Regions from separate parts of the Homo sapiens genome. Here regions 1 and 2 are each linked to region 3. Evidence: fine-mapped QTL for protein levels in blood plasma. A gene starts in region 3. Each other region holds a variant in brackets. All regions are shown on one strand. Distances are from middle to middle.

Region 1 (6,716 bases), 15 kb before region 3:
TAGTGATGACAGCTGGTGGCATTCAAGGGTTCAAGCACAACGAATGAGGCTTTTCTGGCACAGGGTAGCTAGCAGTCAAGGTACACTGCCGGAATTTCCAGAAAGAAAATGTGATTTTGCAAGTACAGCATCAAAGTGAAGTTTATACTTGACAGAAAGCAGAAAACAAAAGTTCCAGACATGATTCTGTCATACAGAGTTAATAATAAGATTGCTTTTTAGGACTAGATTGACTCAGTGCACCCTGGAGAGCCCATGGGTCTCCTTTTGAGCAAACATAAACAAATCCAAACTCTGTCCTAGAGCAAATACTTAACAAATGGTGGTTGTCTAAATGTATATGTAGGACATATTTAACATATACTGGATCATATGAAAGATAATGAAAAGCTATGGGAAAGATAACTTAGAAACAAAGAAGGCATGGATCCTCAGCCCTGGGAACTTCAAATTCATTCCATCTGCTATATAAGAAACACTAAAATAAATAAAAATAGCAAAGTACACAGCAGACATACAATGTGTTACTATTTAGGAAAAAAATTTTAAAAATACGTGCTTTTAACATACATTTCCAAATGTAGACTATCTTTAGAAGAACATATGAATGAAAGGCAGTAGCAGTTGCTTCTGGAAAGGAAACTTGAATGGCTTGGAGGATGAAGTGGAGATTTTCCAACCATCTCCCATGGGATCTTTTGAATTTTGAATCATGGAAAGGTATGAATTTAAAATTTAGTGGCATTTAAATAGAAAAGACAGAACTGTTAAACAATACCAGACACTATATAAACAAGCATTAGATTATATGGCAAAGGCAAATCAGGAATAAATATAATGCTAGAAAAGGAATTCCAGTGTTATTTTTCAGGGTTATTTTAAGTACCGACCTCTCTTTGTAAATGAAAATTACTCTGATTATTAAGATGTTTAAGTATATCCAACCGTCCCAGACCACATTGGCCTATTTCCTCCTCTTGGCAACACTGCTCGGGTTTTCCCCTCGCATCATCCTTATGCTATGACACTGGACTAAATTGTAATAATACATTTTCTTGTTAATCTCCTCATTATACTATGAGCTCCTTGAGGACAGGTACTTTGTCTTGCTCACATCTGTAGATTCAATGCCTGGCACAGCGATTGATATTGCAAGGGCACTTAATAAATGGTTTTTGAATAAAAGAATTGCTTAAAGTAAAATATAGCTGTAAATTGTATTATAAAAGGACAGTGGGTGGCAGTCTGAGGTCTGCTATTTACTGGTTTGGGCAAGTTACTTAATCTGTTTGCTTCCTCAGCTGTACGATGGGTAAAATAATAGTGGTTATCACAACAGGGTGGTTACAGCGATGAAATGAGATTATGTGTGTAGGCTACCACATAATTGTAAAGCTGATATTTAAATGGAACAGATACTGCACAGACACTTGAGGTCTGAGAATAAGATTAGGTCAACCAGAGTATTAATGGGTTAAATAAAGGTGACATCCTATGCAACCAACGGTTTGATCTTTATGCTTCCAATGTATACTTGTAGTTATAGAGGAGACCAAGCACCTTACAAATACTCCATGTTTTACTAGATGTGAGCAAATCATTAAGCAGCAAGTTTAGTTTGGCGACAAAATTGTAACATCTACTACAATATATCTTCAAAAGAAATCATTCACAACCACACTCACATGACAAGAAGACCTCACAGACTCAAAATAAATAGGAAAAACTCATACATAAATACTGTCCCGTTCCAACACTGAGACTCTCAGTCATGCAGAAAACAAATTGAGGCATTGAGTGGAGGCAAAGGGCACTTCTGCAGGAACTGACCCTCAAATTAGGGATTCTCAACCCGTCTTCCTAGGATGAGCAATGGATGATTTGCTTGGAGGCTCCTTGTTCAGAAGTATCCTTTCTCCCTGTCACAGGCGTCGATGAGCCCCTCAGGCATTTGAAAGTATCAAGGTCTCCCTCCAGGCTCCCTGTTTGACTCCATCTTTCTTCATTCTCCTCCTCTGCTTTCGCCAGGTTCCATTTTCAGTGCTTGGGCCTTTTAAGTCCCACATTGCCTGCATCCCACGGGCCCATTCCTTCCTCTTGTCACGCTCAGCCCCGATGAACCCCTAAACCACAGGTTGAGAATCCCTGCTTGAAGATCAGAAGTTCCAATGCTGGATTACGTCTCCTCCAAATGTGTATCTGGAGAGTGATAATAGTATATTAATTTCATGGGAAGTGGTCTGGGGAAAAAGTAACAAGAAATCTAATAAAAAACATAACTCATAGTTGCTGATATGATAAATGATAAATTTGAAATGAGAGAAAGCAGCAGGTTATATTTGTACCCAATTATCCTTACATGATATCCTGGAAAACCCCTCAGTCCTGAGCAAATTGGGATGGCTTGTCCCCCAGCATGACCCAAACAACATTTGCTACTTAGCTTTACAACACAGATGATGCTATGGGCCACAGAATGAAACTTGCCTGAGCTTGTCCAGGTTAATTAGACTGCTTTAAACTTGGGCTCATTGTTAAGTTTGGTTTCTAACTACATTAAAAAAATTAGAAACCTTAATATAACTTTCTTCTTAGTTCAATAACCTGGATGAGGTTTTTCTGCCCTGCTTATAAATGTAAACATTTGTAGCAAAATGGATTGAAGCAGATGGGTTAAGAGTAAGGGTCTGTGGTTAGGCTAATGGCCCCCAAGCTTGATTTTTGTGATCAGCTGTGTGTTCTTGGGCACTTTACATTATCTTCTTGACCCTCTGTTTTCTCTACTGTAAAATGAGGATAAATTCTAGTATTTCTCTCTCTCTCTCTCTCTCTCTCTTTGGTAATGGCAAGGGGTGGGGGATTAAATGAGATACCGTGCATGGTGCAATTAACATAGTATTACAATACTGACACACAATATTTTAGAATCAATTAATTATCCATCCACCTAAGTCATCCTTGTCCCCTGCTGCAAGGAGCTGCTAGGGTGCAGGGCAACAGAAGATTAGCAAATGAAGCTGACTCCTTCCCCTTCCCTGCTCCTAAACCTCCTCAGACGGTGGAGGAGTTCTTGTGTTAGCTGTGAGGCAAAGGGGAACCAGCATTCTTTAAAAGGAGAGGAGATTATGACTGATGGATTTCTCTTTGTTATTGCTTTAGCTTTTTGTTTCCTTTGACTTTTACTTCCCAATTCCTTCTGATATTCTTACCACTTTGCTTCTTTGAGTTTGTATCTTGGATGCCACATTTTTTCACATCCATCATTCTCCCTTGAGAAAAAGAAATCATTTTTATTTCCATATAGCACAGCTCTACATCCCATACAGTGACCCAAGTTTAAATTTCAAGTTCTGTGAAACATTTGTAATCCCTAGGAAGTCTGGTGGACATCCTTATTCCACAGGTCCCAACTTATGAGGTTAATTAATTCAATAGTGTAGGGCACATGCTTTTGATCCTAGATGTTCTTGAGGAGTATACACTTTTATTTTTCATCTTTTCCCAGAGATGAACCAAATTCTGAGGTATTTTAATATCTATTGATTTCTATCCATTTCTACTGCCAACTAATCTTTTTTTCCAGAGAAATATTCAAAATGCATGCTGGCAACAATTATTTCTTTGTGCAAATCAACTCCATCTCAGGATCTTACTGTCATTGAAACTTGATCCTTATATTCTGGCTATCTCAGTCCTGTTAAGAATATAATTTTTGGAAACAGCTTATCTCTACTCTCTCAGTTAACACTACTTTCCCCCATGTAAGGGGTTATGGGGAATTTTTCAACGACTATTGGAATCCCCTTCCATATTCTACTTCCCTATTTAACATCAGACAACTCTATACCATCACTGGATCTCTTGGTATACTTCTCTAAGTATTGGAGGAATTATTTACTCTGACTCATCTTAAATGGGAGGAAATTATTTGAATATACTCATTTTCCTGGATTTTAATTGTTCCCACAGGTAAATGGAGAAATGAACACATGCAAATTATGTAACATCCTCTACCAAAAATTTTGCAAAATACTCTATGGTAAACATACTACAGTTCTACAGAGGAACTATTTTTATTACTTAGGGTACCCAGAAACCAGCTGGTTGCAACTAATGCAAGACTAAAATGCAACTGAAAATGACGGGCATTTTAGCTCTTTCTCTTCTGTAAGTCTGTGGTTATTTTCATGATAGAAAAAAACTGTATGACACTGCATCTTCTACCTCCATCCATACCCATTCTCCTGCCCCTCACCCCTTACGCTTCATCTTCACCCAGTGATCCCACTCAGCTTCAATATAATTGCTGTTGAACAGTGGAATGCCTTTGCACCACCTTGCAGAGGTTAAGTCGGGTTTCCTTGCAGCCATGATCCAATTCTCACCCCTTCCTCACCCCCAGTGGAGACCACTGCAATTAAGGAAATACTACCTTTTCTTAAACGGAAGATGAATGTCAGTGCTACACCAAGGCATAATAAGATGGCTCCCAGAATTACCAAGTGAGTCCTTTCATTTGGAGGATGTGCCAGAGGTAGTTCTGAAAAACAAAACAAAACGAAAACAAACTGACTAAAGATAAAATTTTGATGGGAAGGGGTCAGGAGAATGGTCATCCTTGAAGTTTAGTTTAGCTTTAGGATAATTTTCTTAAATGCCAAAGTTTGAGTGGCTGGAATGGCGAGATACCTGTGTTAAAATGGGAACAGCATGGAGAAGTGTGAGAAGCCCAGGCTTTGAAAAGGTGGTGCTGGGGCTAAATTCTGCTGCCCTTAACCAGTTTTGAGGTCTTGGGCAAGATACTTAACCAGTGTACAAAATACAAATGCTAATACATTTCTTGTGAGGCTAATATTTATAATGTGCTTGCACAGTACCACATGGAGTGGCTGCTCACTATTAAATGGCGGCCTTGATTATTTCACTTCCTCTTGCTTTTTTTTTTTTTTTTTGAGGCAGAGTCTTTCTCTGTTGCCCAGGGTGGAGTGCAGTGGCGCAATCTGGGCTCACTGCAACTTCCGCCTCCCAGGTTCAAGCAATTCTTGTGCCTCAGTCTCCCGAGTAGCTGGGATTACAGGTGCACACCACCACACCCAGCTAATTTTTATATTTTTAGTAAAGGCAGAGTTTCACCATGTTGGCCAGGCTGGTCACAAACTCCTGACCTCAAGTGATCTGCCCACCTTGGCCTCCCAAAGTGCTGAGATTACAGGCATGAGCCTCCGCTCCTGGCCCCTCTTGCATTCTTTAATATAGAAGCTAGTAGCCTACAGTACATGGCAGAGATGGCCCACAGTAGAACATGGAAGGCCAACCAGCACTGCTAAGGAGCTCCCACCTCCTCCTATCTGTCATCATGATTGGAGGCCAATGCTTGTTGTCTTATCTTTCTCTGCAGTTTGAACATCTCTGGACAACAAGCCATTAGTATCTCTTACTAGGCTCCTTGTCTGGGGTACCATGCAGGAGGAAAGGGGGTCCCATGGTACACAGATGTTCAGAGGCTGCTAACTCCCACCTCTCACCCTTAGTCAGCTCCTGCCTGGCTCAGCTCTCCACTGAGACCCATGATCCATCTTTGACTACCCAGGTGAAACTTTAAAGACACAACAACAGCCAGCTTTTTCCGTAACTTACAGTTTACAATGCCTGTTCACGTATGTTTTATTTCAGTTTCAGAACAACTTTATGAGTTAGGCATGCCAGGTATTTAAAAAAAAATCCCCAATTTACAGATGAGGAAACAGACTCAGTGCAGTTAGGTGAGTTACTGTAGGCCACCCAACAAGTAAGTTGTCATAAAACAGCTTGTAAATGGCAGGAACCCACTAATCTAGCTTTTACTGAAAGCCAGTTCAATACCTGAGGACTCGTACCCCAGTAAGAGCATCCCCATCATTTTCTAAAGTTTTTTCCCCCTCTTTCTGTTCACAACACCGTCCTGGATTATCTTTTCCTATTGATTGACTTTTCTATCTAATTTTTCAGTTGTTTTTGCTGAAGTACGTGGCATTTTCCTATCAACATGTATTGGGGGAGGGGGCAGTGAGCAGCTCTTCTCAGAATATCTTTGTGTTTATATTAAATATCATGCTCACTCGCCTCACTTTCTTTCACATTCTGAGCCTCTCATCAGACT[CTG/G]TCTCCCACCCTACCTACTTCTGTAGAGTAGTGAGATAAAAAAAAATAGTTGAATTTGTGCAGGCAATGGTCTCAAATCATTTTCATACACTGTTGCTAATCTGACCCTTACAATAAGCTTGCTCAGTAGATTATAATCCTACAGGGAAAGTGAAGCACACAGAAGTCTAGTAATTTGCCCAGGGACACACAGCCTCATGTTCTATGCACTAAGCAGACTGCTAGAGTTGAAATATTGTAGACTACCTTGGGAGAGGCACCGGGGAGAAAGGGTCCCTCATGTTTGGCATAAGATAGAAAAATATGTTCCATTTATTTCCTGCCACCCTGGAAAGAGGGAAGCAGCTCTGATGTGCCAGGATTTGGATTCCTGAAACAAGGCCTGAATTGAGTATTCCTCTCAGGTATTCCCCAGGTTTCCCGGCTATGAAAGCATTTCCCACATGGTGTTGGATTGCCTGTTTTTTGTTTGTTTCTTAGTTTTTTATCTGTTTCCTGAAGAGTGTGAACTGAGTCTTATTATTCTATGTGTATCCAATGAGTACTACAATGCATGGAACAAAAGGTATATTCCA
Region 2 (6,716 bases), 48 kb before region 3:
TTCAGAAAGTCAGTCTTCAAGCTCTGAGATTCTTTCCTCAGCTTGTTCTATTCTGCTATTAATACTTGCAATTGCATTATGAAATTCTTGTAGTATATTTTTCAGCTCTATCAGTTTAGTTACATTCTTTTCTATACTGGCTATTTTGTCTGTCACCTCCTGTATTGTTTTATTGTGATTCTTAGCTTCCTTAAATTGGGTTTCAGTGTTCTCCTGAATTGCGATGATCTTTGTTCTTATCAATATTCTGAATTCTACTTCTGTCATTTCAGCTATCTCAGCCTGGTTAAGAACCATTATTGGAGAACTAGTGTGATTGTTTGGAGGAAAGAAGACCATCTGGCTTTTTAGTTGTTAGAGTTCTTATCTTGGTTCTTTCTCATCTTTGTAGAATGATGTTCCTTCAATCTTTGATGTTGCTGTTTTTGTTTTTTTTTCCCCCTTTTTATATCATATTTAATGACCTTCGGGGTTTGATTGTGGTATAAGGTGGGTTCAGTAGACTGGCTTCATTTCTGGAAGATTTTAGGGGCCCAAGTCTCAGCTCAGGACTCCCAAACTGTGTGTTATAACTCTGGGGCACTGGTATCAGGCCCCGGTCTTGTTCTCTGGCTCCTTAAGGTTAGGAACCTGCTATGTTGGAGGGGCCTGAGGTGCTCCTGGACCTCTGATCACAACTCTCTGAGGCATGGTGCCAGCCAAAGTGCTTTGTAGGGCTGTGGAAACATGATCCATCCTCAGTCGCATGTGCCAGTCGCAGTGGCAGCAGCGGTGCAGTGGGGTGCACACTTGTTGGCTGCAGCAAGGTGCTAGTGGATGCCGGAGTGCCAGCCTTCGTGCAGGTGTTCATAGAAGCAGCAGTGGCAGCATGGCTCAGGCAGGTTGGGGGGCCCTCACCAGCAACTGTACACATGTTTGTGCCAGTGTTGGGATTAGCATGGGAGCAGGATGCTGCTAGATGCAGGGCTGTGTGTGCCCCCTGTGCACATTCACATGGGAGGCATTGGCCGCTCAGGGCAGGGGTGGGCCTGCTGGTTTTTGTGCCTAGTTTTGTGCCATAGGCAGTGTTCGCATAGGGGCAGGGCTGGGGACTGGCTGGGGCGGAGCTGGCAGCTCCATGCCCAACAACACTCTGATGACAATGCCATTGCCATCACAGTGGACAGTGCTGCAGGGAAAGGAGGGGCAGGATATACTCACACCAGCAGCAGTGGCATGGCAGGGCACACGCTCACACGTATGCTGGTGGGGAAGGGAAGGTGAGGTCTGCCTGTACACGCAGGTACTGGCAAAGTGATATGAAGGGTGGCTGTGGGCAAGTGTGTGCAAGCAAAGCAACAAGGGGGAGGCTGTAGTTAGGGGATGAGCTGGGTGGGCTGGTGTGTGTCCATGGGGGCTACTCTGCTGCAGCACTCTGACAGTCTGGCATGGTCTGCCAGCACAGGTGCTATGATGTGGGCTCCCAGGAGGTACCTGGTGGCTGCACTGCAAGCAGGCATGGACAGGCTGGGGCCCTGGGAAAGGCTAGCAGACCAAAGGGTGCTGAAGTCAGACTGGCCCTATCTCATGGGCAACACCGCCCTGCAGAATTTAGGACCGACAGCTCCCCTGGTGCTAAAGTCTCCTATGGAAGCAAGTTGAGCCTAGGGAGATGGACATCGCTGGCTGTACTCCACCACAAACACTCCCGCACGAAACCTACTGGGCTCCACATCACCTGGAGCTCTGCCCCTACCACTTCTCTAAGCAGCTCTCCTTGCCAACTCAAGTGTCCACAGTGGTTGAGGGGTCTCTTCCTGTCGTGATTCCAGAGACCCATTGCAAGAGCATGTTTCTCCTTGCCTGTTCAACTCATCCCTTCTGCAGGAGTTGTTGGGGGCCAGGAACAAGTCCCAGTGTGTGGTAGCCTCATGCAGGGTTTTCAGCTTCCTCCTGCTTCAGCCCAGCCTCTGTGTCTTCCCTCTGTCCACTCTTGATGCCTTCCCTCTGAAAATCTGGGAAGATCTCTGTGAGAGGTGTTTCTCCTGGCTGCATCTAGTTAGCTCTCTTGCCTCCTTCTCCTGCAGTTAATTTTTATTTTCTTTCTTTGGCTTCATTTTGTTTTTTAAATAGTCTGCCATGAGCACAAATTACTTTTGTAAAGACAGAAATAATTTTTTAAAAGCAATAATGGAGAGTATAGTTAGATTACTGAAAAATAACAAGAAGAAAACATTTAAAGAAATCAACAAAGGGCTGTATGTGTTTCTAATTTATTTTTATTTATTTATTTATTTGAGACAGGGTCTGACTCTGTCACTCAGGCTGGAGTGCAGTGGCATAATCAGGGCTGCCTGCAACTTCAACCTGCGGGGCTCAAGCGATCCTACCACTTCAGCCTCTCAAGTAGCTGGAACCACAGCCATGCGCCACCACACCCAGCTAATTTTCGTATTTTTTTGCAGAGATGGCATTTTGCCATATTGCCCAGGCTGATCCCTGTTAGGTTTTGAAGGGAAGGCGAGGGTTAAAGAAATATGCACACTGTAGAAGTCGGGGACCAGCCTAACGCCAGTGCCTACCGCTGCTTACAGGCTGGGGTAATTTATAGGTATGGGCGGGAGGGGTCTGGGCAGTATGGCTTGCTGCCCGGTAGGATATTGATAAGATGTTCCCGTCATGAGGCAGTTCTGGTCCTTGTTCAGGCGGGATGTCATCGTGGTGTTCCTTGGACCTTTGCCCAGAAGGATATGATAGAGATATTTCTTTAGTTGGGCCTTTGTGGGCCTTGTGGTCAAGTGGTTAGGCAGGGTGTTTCTCATGGCCCAAAAACCCATGAAATGTGTCACTTTTACCAAGGTCTGCAAAATAGCAGGGCGCTTACAAAATGGTGCAGTTTGGATTAACATTCTTGTCTTGGGGCACATGTGTATATGTCCAAGAAGAATGCTGTTTTTATGTTAATGAAGCCGGCATTGTTCGCAACGCAGCCCACAGGCTCCATTACACGGCTGCAGAAATCCAACATCAAGTCATTCACTGTTGGCAGGGGTCATCCTTCCTAAAGTGGATACCTTGGGTAACCCCTGTCTTAGGGTCCCTAATTTTCTCCCTCATAATACTGACAATTGGCCCATGTGTGCGCACCTTCATATCCCGCTTTATCTCCCAAAGGCCGAACTCCCTTGTCCAGGCAGCTATATAGAAACACGATACCATTCTTCTCTGCCAAGTTTGGTATCAGCACTTCCAGGAAAACAACTCTAAAGTCGGACACCCACTGCTGAAAACCCAAAGCCTGAGTGCAGTGCTCCTATTTAGCAGGAAACAGCCAGATAATTAACAATGCCCCTCTTCCTTTTTATGCTAAACTAGAAGGCAAAGACCTTCTGGGCAAAGGTCCAAGGAACACCATGAT[G/C]ACATCCTGCCTGAACAAGGACCAGAACTGCCTCATCATGGGACCATCTTATCAATTTCCTGCCAGGCAGCAAGCCATACTGCCCAGACCCCTCCTGCCCATACCTATAAATTGCCCCAGCCTATAAGCAGCAGCAGGTACTGGCATTAGACTGGTCTCTGACTTCTGTAGGTTTTATGCTGGATATAAAGTCTGCATTTGTTGTTGAACTTCCCTCTTATGTGTGTGTGTCTTTCTTTAAGTCTCGCCTTCCCTTCAAAACCTAACAGTCTTGTACTCCTGAGCTCAAGTGATCCATCCACCTCAGCCTCCCAAATTGTTGGGATTACGGGTGTCAGCCACCATGCCTGGCTGGCAATTTATTTAATTTAGCTTTGTTCTCTTTTTAATAGAAGATTCCTGAGAGGCATAGCTAAATTGTGTGTGTGTGTCTGTGTGTAGAATTAGGCACCCCCTTCAACATTGCATTGTCACTTGGAAATAGAAAATTAGAATTTTGGTCATAAACTATTAGACTATAATAAGAATATAATGAGTTTAATAATTATGTCACCAGCCAATCTATGAGGCCCCTCCTATCTTATAGAAGGGAAAGTTAATACAAAGAGAGATTACAGAGCTTAACCAAGATCACCCTGTGAATGTAGGGCAGAGTAGGTAAGAAATGCTACAACCATTTCTGTCCTTTCCTCCCAAGATATTTTCCTCCAAATGCAGTGTAATGCAAATGTAGTTCAATGTAATATAATATGATGCAATACAATGTATGTGATGTGATGCGATGTAATGTAATATATTGTAATATGACATGATGTAAATATTCATGTAAATCACCTAGAACAGTGCTTGTCATACAGCAGGTGCTAAATCAATGTTAATGCTTTCAGGTCCAAAAAAATAAGTCCAGTATTTCCCACTCTGCTTGGTTTTATAAGGGAAAAAAATACAGCTTGAGGATGAGAAAGAAATGCACTTGAATTTTGGGAAAACAGGCAAAGAGCAAGAGCTAAGGAAGGTGTGAGAAATGAGGAGGCAGCAGTTTATCTAGAACCTGCTTTAGCAACGTTTCCAAAGTCAGGAAGCAGGGATCTGCTGTGAGTTTATCTGGAATGTGAAGGAAGCAGGTGAAGACCAGCTTAATCTCTTGAAAATGGGGAGAGGGGGCCGGGCACGGTGGCTCACGCCTGAAATCCCAGCAATTTGGGAGGCCGAGGCAGGCAGATCACCTGAGGTCAGGAGTTCGAGATCAGCCTGGCCAACATGATGAAACCCCATCCCTACTAAAAAATACAAAACTTAGCCAGGCATGGTGGCAGGTACCTGTAATCCCAGCTACTTGGGAGGCTGAGGCAGGAGAATTGCTTGAACCCAGGAGGCGGAGGTTGCAGTGAGCTGAGATCGTGCCACTGCACTCCAGCCTGGGCAACAGAGCAAGACTCTGTCTCAAATGAAAAAGAAAATGGGGACAAGGAATTTCTGGGGTGGGGCAGGCAGGTCATGAGCAGCTGGGGGAAGAGAGGAGGAGGAGGGAGACCACATGGGGGCCAGCCCGAAAATTGGCCTCCCTTGTGTCATGGTCAGCCAGGGGCTGGAGGTGAGTCACTGGTCATCATCCTCAAAGTCCACACTTGGCTTGCAGTCCCACCTGGTCTCTATGTGCTAAGAAAGGCCTGGTCTCAAAGTAAGAGAAGGAAAGGTGTGAATTGAAGTTCTGGCCGGAGCAACTGAAATACTTGTTTGTTCTTAGAAGGAGAGAGGTCTAGGTTTGGCTCATTCACAGAAAAGAACTTTTCAAAATAAAAAGAGATTTATTATAAGTGTAACAGATTGATGTGGGGCACTGATTAAGTATTTTTTTCTGCCCCATGTTACTGAATAGTGAAGAAATAACTGGGTAGATGGCTTCTTGTTGAGGAAAAGTTACTGAACTCACAAAGGTCAAATTTAAGTAAGGCCTCTATAGCACTGTAGGGTGACTACAGTTAACAACAATGTATTCTATATTTTCAAATAGCTAGAAGAGAGGATTTTGAGTGTTTCCAACACAAAGAAATAAAAGTTTCAGATGATGGATATGCTAATTACTATGATTTAATTATAATACATCTTAGACATGTGTCGAAATAGCACACTCTACTCCATAAATCTATATAATTATTTATGTGTCAATTAAAAAAATAATTAAAAAGCCAGGAGTGGTGGCACACACCTATAGTCCCAGCTACTTGAAAGGCTGAGGAGGGAGGATCATTTTAGTCCAGGAGTTTGAGGTTGCAGTGAACTATGATTCCACCACTGCACTCCAGCCAGGGTGACAGAGCAAGACTCTGTCTTTAAAAATAATAAAAATAAATTTTTCAAAAAGAAATATCGTTTTGTTAATATGGTAAAAAAAATAAAGTCAGGCCTAATTCCTTCAATGAGTCTTTCAAGTGCAGGGTTGGGGGCAGGAAATGAGAGGAGAGAAGAGAGGAGGAGGAGAGAAATTAAACTGGCCCACTGGCCTTGAACAAAGACAAGTAAGAAGGAGACTAAGAGACAGGGAGAAGGTTCCGAGAGCCTAGAGTGGATGTATATTATCTGAGTCTCCTCTCATTCTTGGGGAGAGAAAAGGGGTGCTAAACGCATATCTCCAAAGTTTGAGAGTGCCTTGTATAGAGATTAATACCTGCTTCTTGCCTGAAGTTTCTGAAAATGGGAGGTTCACTGGGTGTCCCACACCCGGGGAGTGAAAAGGGCTGTAGACTTATTTTCAGGAATGAAGAAAATGGGGATATCATTCACATCCCAGGCTCCTGAGTCCTCAAGGATGACCAAAAACCCCAACAGTTACTATGGCTTCGTGTGATGCAGAAGAGAAGGAAGCCAAAGGCATGGGAGGCCCCAGCCATTATCACAGGCCACTACCCTTAGACTGCAACCGCCTGAGACCTGAGCCATTTCTCTGCCCAACTTGAAGATTGCAGGGTCATAAGTTTCACCTATTCTGGGAGGAGAGATATTTGTAAAATATCTCATATTTGTAAAATATGGGATTGGAATTTTAAATGAGATGAACTCTGTCACTTCCTCAAAATGTTAAACATAGCGACCCAGTGTTCTACTCCTAGGTATATTTCAAAAGAAATGAAATGTACACACAAAAATGTCTGCATGAATGTTCATAGAAGCATTATTCTTAGTATCAAAAAATTGGAAACAAACCAGATGTCCAGAGACTGATGAATGAGACAATAAAAAACAGTATGTCCATACAATGGAATATATCTCAGCTTTAGAAATGAATGCAGTCCTGATACGTGATACAGTGTGTGTGAAC
Region 3 (6,643 bases):
AATACGGAAGTCAGAGTGAAAGAAAAGTCACTCTCCTTTTGCAGTTTATGTTGAAGTAGGGGAGTAAAAGATTTATACTCTATTTCAGCCAATCTGTGCATTTATTAATATTTTCTCCCTCTTCTGTTATACATATATTTACAAACTTTGATAAGAAAGAGGTAAGTTTTCCCTCTTAGTGCCTCTCCAATCTTTGTATACAGACATGAACTCACAAATGATCAACTAATCGATGCCACGTATATATAAGACAGGAGATTAATGTTCCTAATATATAAATAGCTCCTAACAATCAATAAGACAACTATACAAACTACACATAACCCATGAGGAAAAAAAGTGAAAGGTCATAACATATAGTTCAGAGAATAAGAAATACAGGTGACATGTAAACATATGAAAGATGTTCAATCTCACAATAAAAAATATAAGATATGAAATACCATTTTCACTTATGAGCTTGACCACAATTGTAAATATTTCTAATATTTAGTGTTTGTGAAGATATGAACAAATAGGCTTTCTTACCCACTAATGGGAGGATTTTTTTCTTTAGGGGGCACTTTGATACTTCCTATTACAATCGTAAATGCGGATGTCATAAGACCTTTCACCCTCTCCTAGAAATCTATCCTACTAAAACAAAAACACACACACACACATATATATATATATGTCTGTATATGTAAAGGAAGAGCATTGCTCATAACAGCAAACTGAGAATATCCTAGATTGTCTAAGTGGTTAAACAAATTTTGGTATATTCACAAAATATAATACCATTAAGGACTGAATTCAGCATATGTACATGTACTGATTTTGTAAACACATAGAAAGTAAGTTGCAGAACACTACATGTAGCAGAAATCCACTTTTGCTGAAAAAAAAAAGTGTGTGTGTGTGTTTAGACACAGGAAATGTCCAAGATATTGACAGTGATTATATTTAGGAATTAAATTAGAGGGAGAACAGGTAGGTTTCACTCTTTATTGTTTTTAAAGGGAAAAAAGGAAGGAAAAGACAGAAAAAGAGAGATGAGATTATGGATTTTTTTTGGTGTTCTGTGTCCAAATTTCCAAGTGAAAGAATGTTTTATTTTTAGTATCAGGAAAAAAATAAAACCAAAATTTCATGAATCACTTCACCTTACCAAACCGTAGAATGTTTAGCAGACCAAGTGATATAATGGAAAGAACCCCAAAATGGAGTCCAAACATCCAAACTGACGTAGAATAATAACATTCGTTTATTTTTTATGTTTTTTTCTTTATTATTAAAGTAATATAATGGAATTACAGAAAATAAGAAAAGAAGGGGAAAATCCCCTACTATTTCATCACTCTCACCCAGGGAGCATCTGGTGATGCCTGGAAACATTTTTGGTTGTCAAAATTGGGCTGGTTGAGGGAGGACTGCTATTGCTATCTAGGGGCAGAGGCCAAGAGTGCTGCCAAACACCCTGCAGTGCACAGGCCAGCCTCCCACAGCAAAGACATACAGCCTAAAACGTCAACAGTGCCAGTGCTGAGAAACCTTGTCACCACTGTGAGCAAAAAACATTTCAGTGTATATCTTTCAATTTTTTTCCCTGTAATCTTTTAAAAAGTAATTTATAACCTTATCATACATTTAATACCCATTTGTTTCATTAAAGCTTATGGCATAAATATTGCCCATCTTACTGCATGGTATTCATAAGCATCTTATTTAACAGTTCCATAATATTTAATCCCTCTATTGTTAGGTATCAGATTGTTGCCAATTTTTTAAAATATCATAAGTATTTGTGTGTTCAGCAAATATTCGTTGAGTGCCTACTGTGTGCCAGGGCCCCAGGCTAGGCCCTGAGGATAGATTTTCCCAAATAGTGTTGCTGATCAAAGAAAAAGAACATTTTTCTGGTTCTCAACACATGTTGATAATTGGTACTGTTACACTGTATTTTCACCCATTGTTTAAAAAATATTATTTTTTTGCTAATTTGAAAGATCTGATCATTTTTTGGTCTGTTTATGTCACTGGTTTCTTATCAACCTGTATGAGTCCTTCATGTTAAAAGATAAAAAGGTTAAGTGAAATAACATGAGTCATCATCCTCTTGCCAGTGTTAGGTACCTATTTTTTTATTTCTTTCCTTTCCGTCTATCCTGTAGATGTGGAATAGCGATGGCATTCAGGCCTGTGAGGTCACATTTGCTAAAATGGGGCTGCAGCATCTATCAGACTATCTTTTCCTTGGGCCAGAGTTAACTGTACAGTTATAAAATATTACTTATAAAATATAAATATTACTTATAAAATATTTTATAACTGTACAGTTATAAAATATTAATGTGATATTTTATGATTATTGTATTATAAACACAAATTCACTTACTAGGCAGAAGAAAACTTAAAATACCCCTAATGCCAAGCAAAGCATTATAACCATATGGGAATAAAACAAAGGGACATTAAATCTAGTCATGGATTACAACTAATTTTGCCAATGTTTATGGCCTACTCTGGTGGAGTTCTTGTCCTTTAATGAATTTGGTTGAAATTTTTAGGAGTAATAAAGGCTTCCTGGAGGGTGATGGATTAGATCCAATATTTACTTAATTTCTTATCAAACCCTCTCTTCCACAGCTCCATTTCCTTGGGGTGCAGCTGTCATTAGTGAGGGACGAAAAGGCAGAATACAAAGATCATGTAAATACACACATGTTCTTTAACCTCTAAACCTCATATCAGGGCAGTTGGTCTAAGAGAAGAAGACTGACATCTTCTTCAGGTAAGAATTATGACCATATGTGAATTCCCATATCCGAATGGAGACATTTAAAGAGCAATGAAATGTAAACTGGGGAAGAAGTGATGGCTCATTCAGGTTGGGGAAGTGGGTTTGTCCCTGGGGGAAGCCCAGTATAACACTATGGAACTAATACTACTTCTCTATCTTCCAAGGGTAGGATGGGTAGGAGGATGAGATAGAGAAAAAGTTAAGCAGCCAGGAGCAGTGGCTCATGCCTGTAATCCCAGCACTTTGGGAGGCCGAGGCAGGCGGATCACCTGAGGTCAGGAGTTCGAGATCAGCCTGGCCAATATGGTGAAACCCCATTTCTACTAAAAATACAAAAATTAGCTGGGCGTGGTGGCAGGTGCCTGTAGTCCCAGCTACTCGGGAGGCTGAGGCAGGAGAATCACTTGAACCCGGGAGGCAGTGAGCTGAGATTGCACCACTGCACTCCAGCATGGGCAACAGAGTGAGACTCTGTCTCAAAAAAAAAAAAAAAAAGACAAAAAAAACCGGTTAAACTTCCTTTCTCAAAAGTAGGAGCAAGAGGCCTGCATGGTGGCTCCCGCCAGTAATCCCAGGACTTCTGGAGCCTGAGGAGGGAGGATCGCCTGAGGCTAGGAGTTCGAGAACAGCCTGGGCAACATAACAAGAGCCCCATCTCTACAAAAACAAAAAAAAAATTCTTAAGTAGGATCAAAGATTAAGACAGTTGATTTATTAAACCTCTACTAAGTGACCAAACTTTATTAAACTCCATGAAACCCCATGCCCAACCTCCTTCTCAGTCACACTGAGACACTCTTGTACATTTTCCACATGGGGTTTCAATTCCCCACAGTATTTCTGTGACTTCCTTGAAGACCACACTCTAACTGCTGTCATGTGGCCTCTGCCTACCTACTTTTACTGAGAAAGGCTAAGTTTTTCTTCAGAGTATCATAGTTCTCCTTAAATACTGTTGACGACTGTCATTGTCAACTGATACATCCTTTCTGGAAAGCATTTTCAGTTTTCTTCAAAAGGCCTTTAAAATATTCAGGCTCTTTGACTAAGTAGTTACACTTCTAAGTTTACTTGAAGGAAACAATCAGCAATATTCCAGAGATATATATGCAATGAGTTCAGTGAATGGCTAAGACAGAACCACTGTAAATAACCTTTATACCCAACAGTGAGGAATTAATTTCATTTAGTTACCCAATCTAATCGAATGCAGCAATGAAAACATTTTTTAGAAGGTTATTTAATTCATAGAAAAGCATCCACAGTAAATTTTTTTCAAGTATTAAAAAAAGAGGTAGAACAATGGTACTTTTACTCCTTGTGTTATAAGACAAACCCAGACTGAACTTTGACATAGGCCAAGGTCAATGTGTCTAAGAAATGTTTTATTATACTATTTTTATTCTTAGGCTCCTCCATTCCTCTTTTAGGACTCCTTTGGGTTCTCAGAATGGACAGAGCAAATAAATTCCGTTCAGGGATCCTGGACCTGCTTAGCGCAGGAAGAGACTTACTTAGATGCTGCAGCTGGGATAACTTACACAAGTCATGTTACTAGCAAGCAGCTGGCGGTGGACTTGGACCCGTGTCCAGACCTCCAGCCTAGCATCAGAGCTATATTCTGAACACACAGTCGCATAAGAATGACTACCTATCCTATACTACCTATCTTATTTATTTTTAGAGGTATAAATTATTTTTAGAGCAAAACTGAATCGCGCCTGGAGGAAGGCCAGATGCATTGCCTGTTCTTATTAACCCCAACAGGTAATTGGCTCTACTGCCCCCTAGACCATCGCGTTCCCTTTCCCTTCTCCTCTCTCCATCCCAAAGAAAGGGTGTAGAGACCCTCCGTCCTAAAGTGCCCAGCGAGCTAGCCAGAGATACTGGGCCGTGGGCACCCGCGGAGGAACAACGCTCCCTACCTGCAGGCGGACAGAAGCGCGGCTGGTGCGGAGCCTCGGGAAGCTGCGCAGAACTGGGGCCGCGCGGGACGCGCCAGCTGCTCAGCGTTGCGCCAGGCCCGGAGGCGGGGTCCCGCCCACCTCTGCCCAAGGCAGCAAATCCAGTTTGCCGGGCGTTGGACTTTCCTGACCTTCGGTGAAATCGGCGGAAGCTTTCAGTTTAGGTATCTAGTGTTGGTGTCCTAGGAATAAAGCTGTGTATAGAAATGAAACAGAAAGTGAAACATGTCAGTCCAGTTTTCTTGTAAATGAGATTTTCACCGGGAAGAGTTTCGAAGATTAAAGCAAATCCACATTTAGTATGTTATTAATAAAAAAAGAAATTTACAACAAGCCAACATCTGAACGCACCTTGATTTTACCTTCAGAGGGGTAAGAGCTTAAGGTTACCCCTTAACCTTTATCAGAAAGGCGTCCCCCTTTCTGATAAAAGCCTCTTCAAGGTGACTGAACATCTTGACATAACTTGATATAACTCTACAACATATAAAAAGTCAGCAGCAGACCCATATGGCTTTGGTTTTTATTCTAGAAAGTAGGTGTGTGTGTGTGTGTATGGGTGTATAATAGGAAATATATTTTTAAATCGTGGATTCTGTGACTTCCTCAAAGTTCCTCGACATAATGAAACTTCATTTGCTTTGTCATTAAAAGAACTTCCCATCCCGAGCTACATCTTTTAAGAATGCTCAGGGTCCCTGATATTCTGCCACCCTAAGGATTAAGGCTGCGGAAGCCTATTCTAGGTGAGGGTTAAGAAAGCCCTTTTGAAAGCTTTGGGTTAGTGAATGGGCCCAAGATGACAGACGATGGTGTCATAATTTACTTAAGTATTATCCCGCGCTGAACTTCTAGGTGCTCTCTTTTCTCGAACTCCTTGACCTCAAGTGATCCGCCAAAGTGCTGATATTACAGGCTTGAGCCACCGTGCCTGTGTGCTCCCTTTTCTTTTTTTTCTCTTTTTCTAAATTGAGAAATTGGACTCTTCGTTGTTTGCCTTTCCTTCTTATTCATTTCAACTGCAGTTCAAAATACTGCATAATGAATGAATATTGAGATAGCCCTTGCATTGGTTATGACATTTGCTTCCAAAATAAGAATTTTCACATTCTGATTGTATCACAGATTTTTATTTTTATCTGGGAAATTATTGAGGCTGACACTGCCTTGATTTGGCAGGAGCATGGAGTTCTCTTTGGCCCCAATAAAATTGCAATAGGGTTTGGGCCCAGCTCAGATGTTCCTTCTTTCAAATCACTTTTGAGGTCACATAGTAGAATAGAGCAATTTTGGTGACTGTAAGTTTGGGTGACTTCCCAAAGTTCCCGAAGTTGGGTGACTTCCCAACTTTGGTGACTGTGACCTCTAGGAAAATATAGACATTATGTGGCAATACAGTTTACAGGTACTGCATATATATAGTCTGTGTATGACACACACATGTACAACAAGTTTCATGAAAAAATACTTAGATCTACTATCTGCAATGCCCTCTGATATTTTCATTTAATGTTTTATTTTTCTAAAAATGGTCAAGACCCAGGGCATAAACTTTATGATCTGCTAGTTCATCATGACTCTTGAGGTCTGCAAAAAACAAAACAAAAAAAAACAACTGGCTTCAGAGCCATCTACCACTAACTAGCTGAGTTAACTTGGGCAAATAATTTACCAAGTAGCCAGGATTAAATCATATCCTCCTAGATGGCCTGGATGATCTATGAATAATTTTTTAAACTGGGGATGGGTATTTTGTTTTTGTTTTATGAAAGCAGTGTTCAGGGTCTACCTAAATGATCAATGAGGCAAACGGAATTTGCCTTTCTCTAAAGTTGCTGATGGGAATTGAGGGTATTTGCTCAGCTTGCTGCTCAGTGATTTGCGTATTAGTAATGTG

Which allele goes with the higher level. Alleles are on the strand shown, and positions count from the first base shown. The strength of an association depends on the size of the effect and on how common the allele is. Not every link is listed here.
With allele G in place of C in region 2, the plasma level of the protein whose gene starts at base 4,762 in region 3 is lower (strong association).

What was found. A credible set is the group of variants that fine-mapping cannot tell apart. PIP is the chance, under the fine-mapping model, that this variant and not a neighbour inherited with it causes the effect. Protein levels are from antibody-based Olink assays in UK Biobank. Linkage for the fine-mapping came from a reference panel and not from the study's own genotypes, which makes the PIPs less certain.
Region 1: its variant is the best candidate, but not a certain one, in a credible set for the plasma level of the CD274 protein (UK Biobank, PIP 0.83).
Region 2: its variant is the best candidate, but not a certain one, in a credible set for the plasma level of the CD274 protein (UK Biobank, PIP 0.56).

What each region holds. Positions count from the first base shown.
Region 1 is chr9:5,463,323-5,470,038 of GRCh38, reverse strand. CD274 (CD274 molecule) reads right to left here. Exons shown (of 7, transcript NM_014143.4): 5 at 4,433-4,540; 6 at 3,210-3,269; 7 at 1-2,199. The coding sequence ends at 2,177. The region is part of intron 2 of INCR1 (interferon stimulated noncoding RNA 1); the gene reads left to right. Among named protein-coding and RNA genes, the nearest start is that of CD274, 16 kb to the right of the region's middle. The variant CTG/G (reference allele first, on the strand shown) is at 6,140.
Region 2 is chr9:5,496,811-5,503,526 of GRCh38, reverse strand. All of the region lies in intron 2 of INCR1 (interferon stimulated noncoding RNA 1), which reads left to right. Among named protein-coding and RNA genes, the nearest start is that of PDCD1LG2, 10 kb to the left of the region's middle. RefSeq lists an enhancer at 1,139-1,640 and a silencer at 4,124-4,418. The variant G/C (reference allele first, on the strand shown) is at 3,398.
Region 3 is chr9:5,448,661-5,455,303 of GRCh38, reverse strand. It overlaps CD274 (CD274 molecule), which reads right to left and starts at 4,762. Exons shown (of 7, transcript NM_014143.4): 1 at 4,708-4,762. RefSeq lists enhancers at 4,486-4,645, 4,936-4,985.